Regions from separate parts of the Homo sapiens genome. Here all the other regions are linked to region 1. The links come from fine-mapping of genetic effects on gene expression. A gene starts in region 1. Each other region holds a variant in brackets. All regions are shown on one strand. Distances are from middle to middle.

Evidence for each region. PIP is the estimated chance that this variant, and not a neighbour inherited with it, causes the effect.
Region 2: its variant is fine-mapped to the expression of CCDC85A in B cells (Fairfax 2012, PIP 0.92).
Region 3: its variant is fine-mapped to the expression of CCDC85A in thyroid (GTEx, PIP above 0.99).

What each region holds. Positions count from the first base shown.
Region 1 is chr2:56,182,592-56,185,348 of GRCh38, forward strand. CCDC85A (coiled-coil domain containing 85A) reads left to right here and starts at 1,399. Exons shown (of 6, transcript NM_001080433.2): 1 at 1,399-2,309. The coding sequence starts at 2,034. The region is part of intron 1 of LOC100129434 (a long non-coding RNA gene); the gene reads right to left. RefSeq lists a silencer at 1,069-1,398.
Region 2 is chr2:56,356,028-56,358,784 of GRCh38, forward strand. The region is part of intron 3 of CCDC85A (coiled-coil domain containing 85A); the gene reads left to right. Among named protein-coding and RNA genes, the nearest start is that of CCDC85A, 170 kb to the left of the region's middle. The variant C/CTTTT (reference allele first, on the strand shown) is at 1,628.
Region 3 is chr2:56,248,914-56,251,670 of GRCh38, forward strand. The region is part of intron 2 of CCDC85A (coiled-coil domain containing 85A); the gene reads left to right. Among named protein-coding and RNA genes, the nearest start is that of CCDC85A, 66 kb to the left of the region's middle. The variant G/A (reference allele first, on the strand shown) is at 1,176.

The sequences.
Region 1 (2,757 bases):
CACAGATCCCTGAGAAAGATCCCCAGGCTGTAAAACCCAGCAAGAGGCGGAGAGATTTACATGTCAAAGGGTCAGAGGAAACATTCACCAATGGAAGTTGGCTAAAGTAAATGCTCTGAGAAAAGGAAGGTCTGGGGCCTACAGTTAGGAAGAAACCTGTCTAAAGTTTAGTTAAGCTGAGGGGAATGTTAAGGCCATTTGGTCACCGTAAGCAGTACCACATTTCCTTGCCTCTCCCGGGAGCCAGGTCTCAGTGTCCCCAATAGGGGACACGCACTGACCGGCGGGTGAAGGGACTGATTTTGATTATCATCCTACCAGATAGAGATTATTCCCTCTGCACCCGGGTTAACTGAAACCCGGTGGGGGTAGATCCTTGCCATTTTCCGGCCCTGTACCCCACTGGAAATAACATGCGGTGGTCAAGGGCATCCACCTCTTTAGGCAAAAGCATGTTTTCAGCCCAGAGACGATTCCACCCAACTTTACAAGAGGATAGCCCAAAGATAGAAGCCAGGGACTCAGACTTCCTCCTTCCAGAAATAACCATCATAAAAAAGCCGACCCAGTAAACGCCTGGCAGCCTGCGGCATAGAAGAAAATGGAAATCTCCTTGGCTGGCATTTCAGCTTGCCTGAGGGGGCTTGCTTTGCTCCGAGGGGAGGTGACTGTGCTGACCTTAAAATCCAGGTTTCAGGAAGCAGGAGATGAAGGTATTTTATTTTCGCCTAAAGGCTTTGATATTTTTCAAATAAAAATTTAAAAGATCCAGTACCTTCTCCCGAAGCTTCTTCATAGAGTAGTGGATTTTTAGAAAACACAAAGGCCTAGGGGTGGGGCGAGAGTGGGGGGTGGGGATGGGTAGCCCCATAAGAGCAGTGCCCTGACGCCTCTTTTCGCCCTTTTCAGACCATTTGGATTTTCTTAAGCTGCCCCTTTCCCCAACCCCCGTTTTTGCCATTTGCCTCTCCTCCCATTCTCCAAAGTGCAAATAACTGGTTATCCCTCAGGTCCTGCTACCCCATCTTTCCTGATCCCCGATCCCTCCAAATACGAAGCACCTCGCATTTGGGTCAGCAGCTGTTTCCCCTGCCTGGTGACAAGGCCGGTGTGCAGAGGGCAGAGGAGGGAGCTTCTTCCGCCACACGGTGGCGCGCGCGAGCCTCCCAAAGACCGGGCGGCCACAGCTCCTCACCTTCTCCCCATTCCAGCCCCACCCGCCCGGGCGCAGAAAGAGCCGCGCCCCCAGCCCTCCCGGGCAGGACAGCCGGGAGCGCACCTCGAGGGCCCGGGCAGCGGTCGAGTGGCAGCTGCGTCCAGCCCATGCGGGAGCTGCTGCGGGTTACGGGTGGCCCCAGCTCCAGGCTCCTCCTCCAGCCGGTCCCCCACCCTCCACCCCTTCTCGACTCCGCTCTGCAAATCGAAGGCTTTCCGGAGCAGCCTAGGAGCGGCCGCGGGCGCAGCGAAGGCGGCAGGAGGAGCGCAGCAGCCTTCGGGCAGCCGCGGCGGCGTCGCTAGAGCAGCCGGGGAGGCGCCGCGGTGCCCGGCGCGCCCTCCAAGCTAGGAGAGGGGAGAAGCCGGGGGCTGCAGCTGGGCAAGGGGGAGGAAAGTGCGTGTGCGTGCACGCCTGTGTGCAGGGCAGAGAGTGCGGGGGGCGACAGTCTCGGCTTAGGGCGGAGGAGAGGGCAGGGGAACGGCGGTGCAGCTCCCCCGCTGTCCCCGAGGATTTCCCGCGGCAGCCCCGGGCTCCCCAGTGCCCCTCACCATGGACTTGCGCGGAGTTGGGACGGGCCTCGGCAGCAGCAAGCGGCTGGCTGCCGGGCCCTGGGGGAGCGCGGGCGCGCGCGCGGGGATGGCGAGGTAGGATGGCCACCCAGCGCGACCCCCGCCGCCCCAACCCAGCGGCCCCTGGGCGGTGCCGCTGACTCGCCGGAGCGCACAGGGGTGTGGGCGGAGGCGGCCTCGCCGCGCCCGCGCCTTCGGGAGTCGCCTCGCCTCTTCCACCCACTTGCACCTGCCACCCCGCGGATACCATGTCGAAGGCGGCCGGAGGCGCGGCGGCGGCTGCGGCGGCGGCGGAAAGTTGTTCCCCAGCCCCGGCCGGCTCGTCCGCGGCCCCGCCCGCGCCGGTGGAGGACCTGTCCAAAGTGTCGGACGAGGAGCTGCTGCAGTGGAGCAAGGAGGAGCTGATCCGCAGCCTGCGGCGCGCCGAGGCGGAGAAGGTGAGCGCGATGCTGGACCACAGCAACCTCATCCGCGAGGTGAACCGCCGCCTGCAGCTGCACCTCGGCGAGATCCGCGGCCTCAAGGTGAGCGCGGGCCAGGTGGGGAGGCGCGGCGCGGCTGGGAGCGGGGTGCCCCGAGGAGGAGGCGGGGCCAGGCAAACTTTCCCTCCCTCCCTCAACAGGTGACCCTCCCCTTCTCCCGGTCGGCACCCCCTACCCCCAGTCCCCAGCCCCTGTGTAACTTTTCCAAACTTCGGAGGCGTCTGCTCCCCTCCTCTCCCCAACACGGGGCGCTCCACTGTCTGGCTGTTCGGGGAGGCGCTGAGGACGCTGGAAAGCAGGGAGGGAGGTGAAGGGCACGCGAACCTTTCATTTCTTAGGGAGGCTGGAAAATCTGTGCCTGGGGAGCCGGGTTTCAGTCAGTTAGGCGGAAAGGCCAGTGAGGGGGTGAATCCAGGGGATCTTCGCCTTGGAGGGTCGGGAATGCGGCTGCTCTGGGCCAGCAGCTCTTGGGCGGGCAGAGGGCGAGGAA
Region 2 (2,757 bases), 170 kb after region 1:
GGGGATAATTTTTTTAATTTAAGCATTTTCATATGTGATGAAATTTAATATCTATAACTACAGAAATCTCATAAGAGGAAAAGATAAAATGCACACTCAGAAATAAATCTAACCAGTAAATTTGATCACAACTAAATTGTGTGGGAATGATTGGTCGTTATGCTTTTGGGTGCCTAGCAAGTATTGAGTGCCAAAAGTTAACAGAAGCTACAGTTAAAATTTGGATGAAATATTTCTCACAAAGAGTTTTAAGCAAAGGGGCCTTTATCAACTTTGTATTTTGCAATTTTTGTTTGGAACAAGCCCCGTTCACTTTCTACTCCTGTTTCTACCACACTCCCATTTTAATACATGATTCTTTAACCAGTGAAACTCACATGCTTTTGTTAGTAAGTTCTCTAAATGGTCAGATAGTTGGTGATGGCAGCTTAGGTTCTTTGCCAATTGAAAAAGACTTTGGCTGTGATAGGCTGAGCCAGGTGGATCACCTAAGGTCAGGGATTCAAGACCAGCCTAGCCAACATGGTGAAACCCCATCTCTACTAAAAATACAAAAATTAGCCAGGCATGGTGGCAGACACCTGTAATCTCAGCTACTGAGGCAGGAGAATCACTTGAAACTGGGATGCAGAGGTTGCAGTGAGCTGAGATCATGCCACTGCACTTCAGCCTGGCCGACAGAACTTTTTTTTTCCATCTCAAGGAAAAAAAAAAAAAAAAGAAAAGGACTTCGGAGAGGTCATTTTAAGATTGAGCCCTAGGCCGGGCACGATGGCTCATGCCTGTAATCCCAGCGCTTTGGGAGGCCGAGGCTTGTGGATCACGAGGTCAGGAGATCAAGACCATCCTGGCTAACATGGTGAAACCCCATCTCTACTAAAAAAACCAAAAAAACAAAAAAGTAGGCCAGGCGTGGTGGTGGGCACCTGTAGTCCCAGCTATTCGGGAGGTTGAGGCAGGATAATGACGTGAACCTGGGAGGCGGAGCTTGCAGTGAGCTGAGATCACACCACTGCCCTCAAACCTGGGCAGCAGAGTGAGACTCCATCTCAAAAAAAAAAAAAAAAGATTGAGCCCTAAATAGCCACTTGTGAAGAAGGTGTCTCATGCAGTCTTCTGAGCATTGATTCATTGATTTTATTGTAGAGGATTCTCTTGGTTAGGGAAACCAGTCATACTGAGCTGTTGTCACTTGAAGAAGAGATCAAGATAGGCATGAGAGAAGGTGGGGACAGCTGCCCCTCAAATGTTCACTTAAGTACCCACTATGCTCAGGATCTTAATATTAATAAAATTCATCAGAATCAGTCATGAGAGTGTGATAAGACATCTTTCAATTCTAGATAGAAGTATTTTGGGGTGATTTCTTGTGGCTACAGTTGATGCCATAATTTATTGTTAATAATTGGTCTTTAAACCATTTGAAAATATTCAGTGTTTTTATCACTTTGATTTTAAGTACTTTTATTGCCTTATTAAACTATGCTTTTTATTTTAGATGTATCTTTTGTGTTAATGTTTTTTGAAGGCATGAGTCCTACTGGGTTTTCAGTGTGTGTTCAGTATCTTAAGTCTTTAGGGCCCAAGAAGGGACATTGTAGGTCATGGAAGGGATAGTGTCCATTTC[C/CTTTT]TTTTTTTTTTTTTTTTGCTATGTTCTTTTCTCTTAAATGATGAGGTTGCAGCCTGAAATGGACCTTTCTTTCTGTGAGAAACAGAGCTTATGCCAGAGCAGGGTGGATATTTACAAGCATCTGTAACCCTTACAGTTGGATCTGACTCAGGTTACAGACAGGGCACAATACAATATGGAGACCCAGTGTGTCATCAGTTCCAACCTGGTGCTTTGTTTCTGTCTCAAGCACTAACCACATCCTGAGTATCAGCTGGAGTCCTGGATACTGGCCCAGCATTGAATCCATCTTGATGATGATTCCCATTCTGACCCTGGCCCCCCATGGTTATTCTATTTTGCAGGTGAGAGAATGTCACCTATTAATGGACAGGGCAAGGTTTGTGTCCAGATTTTCTGTTACCTCTGGTTTAGTATTTCTATTTTGCTCAGACTTGTCACGTGACACTTTTGCATCTCTTGAAGCAAGATAATCTGTGAAAATGACACTATCACCACTACCTCCACCACCATCAGCCAAAACAAACCTCTGCGTAGTATTGGGGTCTGAATACGACAGATCCCAGGAAACCTGGGCTTTAGTTTCTAGTCCATCTGTTTTGATATTTACTATGAGAGTTCATTTCTTTAATAATGTTTTATCCAGTTGGGAAGGTCTTGTCCTTTTAGAACTCTTAAGAAATTTCAAGCCTCCAATAAACAGTTACTCAGCAAAGGACATTTGTCTATTTATCACTTATTTTCTGGTTCATTTACTGCTTCCGTTTAAGCACCTAGCCTCCTTCTCCAGAAATGTCCCAGACTATTCCAATCTGCAGTGACTTCTTTATTATCTATACCAGGGTTGGCAAACTTTTTTAGCAAAGAGCCAGGTAGTAAATATTTTCAAATTTATGGGCCATATGTTCTGCTTCAGCTACTCACATCCTGCCATTGTAGTGTGAGAAGAGCAGAAAACAGCCACAGAGAACATGTAAATGAACAAGTGTGGCTGTATTAGAATAAAACTTACTTACAAAATAGACAGTGGCCTGGATTTAACTCTGGCAGTAGTTTGCTGATCCCTGCTTTACACTAAAATAATTTATTCATCCATGACTCTGGGTTATCTCTTATATTTTTGTCTTTTT
Region 3 (2,757 bases), 66 kb after region 1:
AGCTACCATAGTTGTCCTAAAGAGCATATCAGGGAAGTGCCTGTATTGGCAAGAACAGATGGGGTTCTAGAAAAGGTTAGGGCGGGACTGTGACCTTCAGTCAAGGAATGAATGCAGCCCAAGATGACAATGGAGGGAGGAAGTCCAGGAATAAATAGCAGGACCTTCTCTCTTCTTCTGTCTAATATCCTGCAGATGCTTGCCAGTGACTGAGCCCAGTGGGAAGCTAGCGGTCTGGACAATCCATTGCTGTAACTCATATAGATCAGAGCTGCTGGAACAAGGGGAGGAAGTGGCTGTCACTATAGGAGCAGGGCCGCCAGACATGAGCTCTGCCTTAGGCAGAGGGATGTACCAATGCCAGACCACAGACTGCATTTGGGAAAGAGGAGGAAACTCCCTTTACTTTCTGTCTTTCTTTGCTCCCATCCCTTGCCAGGGACACTTATTGGCCATGCCCAGTGAGATGCTAGAAGGCAGGGAAGCTGGTTTGATGCAGCCTCCTGGAGTACAGAGCAGGAGGGTAGAGTGAATCTGAAGAAGCACATGAAAACAATCCCATACAGGGCCTATATGTGAATCTGTCCCTGAAGAACAGCCTCAGAAGACACACTGTGGAAGCTTTGAGGTCACTGGGTCATTGGTCAGCAGCTTTATTTAGATCAGCTGCCTTTGCGTATGCAGCATCTTTCATTGACACAGAAACTTGACCTTGTTACATATCAGTTTTCTCTGAGCCTTCACGAAGTAGCTTTTATCAATTTTCTTTGCCTTCTAAGTAAAAGCCAGCAAATTTGCAGAGGGGCTGGTCTCCCCACATCTGGTTATCTGTATATTTTGCAAATTCTTGACCTTGAGTGGTCCTGGCATGTAGTTATTCCTCTGTGTCTACACCTGGGCCCTGGGGCATTTGTGTCCTTCAGATGCCCCTTCCTCTGATAAACTTTCTGAAGGTTCAGCATTTTCTGTGTCCCATTAAAATTTAATTTGCTGTAACATTGCCAGGCCCTGCCATAGCTATATTTAAATGGCTTCATTGCCTCATTCTTTGCATTGCCTCTGCTTTTGAGGATCTTGAAATGGTAAATGTCTTCAGTTGTGCCAGCAGCCATGAAGGGCAGGCAGGGGCTTTGTAGATGATATCTGTGTACTTATAGGTTTTGCTCCTCTAAAAC[G/A]TGTAAGCAAGGACTGTGAGGTTATTGTGAGAGTGAAGGGCATGGGAGGAGCATTTGGGTACAGCAGGAAGCATTTGAAAACAAATGTTAATTCATTTAAGAGTTTGGTGCCTGTTTAATTTTTGGTAAGCCCACTTAAAATATAGTAAGATTTTAAGTTGGAGTGCTTTTCCAAGCATGAGCAATAAAAATGTGCCCTGGACCCTATGCTGTAATTGGCACAGAGACTGTAGTGGAGTTTTACCCTTTGTACCCAAGCCTGTGTCTCTGCAACCTTTGGAAAATATTCTTAGTTTGAAGTTAGAAAACAAAGTAAACTGTCTGCTTGAACATTGTTGAAAAAGTTATTGTACTAGCCTATCAAGGATAAGATGATACAAACCAGGTCAGGGGAAAGAAGTTAGGAAATGCCTAGTGACATCTGTATGGTAGTCGGCTTACCTAGGGTAGAAGCTCAGTGAGAGAGAGAGTCGGGAGAATAGGAGGAGACAAGGGCAGGACATTTTGGGTTTCCTGAGAAGCAGTGGTTGGCAATTTCTCTCCTGAGTTTCCAGAAATGACATATTATAGGAAGGGTTGCAATGTGATTCAAATTGCTAATGTGTGCTTCTTGAAAAAATATCAAACCACTCCCCCAAATTGAGGTATTTGGTTAATAAACAATCAAGTCTCTGTTCATTGAGTTATCATTTGTCATTGCTAGAGTTGATCTATTGAACTAGAGCAAATTGGGGAATATTAGAAGTACATTTGAAAGACTTTGGATACAGTTGTCTCTTACTGTAAATGTCATCTTTTTTTTCTTTCTGTCATATTCCCAGTACCCCTCTCTGACCTCTCTTCTTTGCTATTTTGTCTTTCATTCGAGTCCCTTTCTATTTACTCTTTTTCCTTCCATTTTAGTTTAGTTCTGTCTTTTGTGTGTCTGTGTTTTCCATTCATTTTATACGTTTCTGGTCTGACACTTTATTACCTAGTGTTGTCTGTGCTGTATGTTTCATCAGTTCTTTCCTCCCCCAGAGGTATCTCCTGGGATCTATAAATAGTACTGCAACAATGTGTTGGTGAACTTTGGGTGAACAAAGGGTATGGGTCGCTTTAGACCTTTCTTAAGGCAGCCCTGTGTTGAGGGCTCTGTTTTCTCCTGTAGGCAGCAAATCCTTTGTGAGCCCAAGTTTGCCCAGTGCCTGGTATATATTAGGTGCTTAGTGAATATTTGTTGAACACATGGATGTATTATCTGAAAATGTTGGGCCCATATGAGTGGAAAATAAGGGTTGCTGTTTGGGAAAAAGTTGACGAGTTTCATGTGAGTTTTCCTCTGGGAATAGTGGCCTTGCCAGTTTGGTTGCTGTTTAGTCTTGACACTTTCTTCTACAAATGCTTATTTTCTGTGGGTTCTGCTGTTTCTTTTTCCTTCTCTATTAATAAATATTGTTTGTATCATGTTGCAACCTCCTCTTTGGCTTAACCTCCCTTGGTCTGTGTTGGTGGTGGCAGGGTCTGTTTGCTCCTTCCTTCATTGCTGTCTCAGTGGCAGCTCCTTTCTTCTTCTTTACCTGCTCTGCCTCTTCTTGCTGTT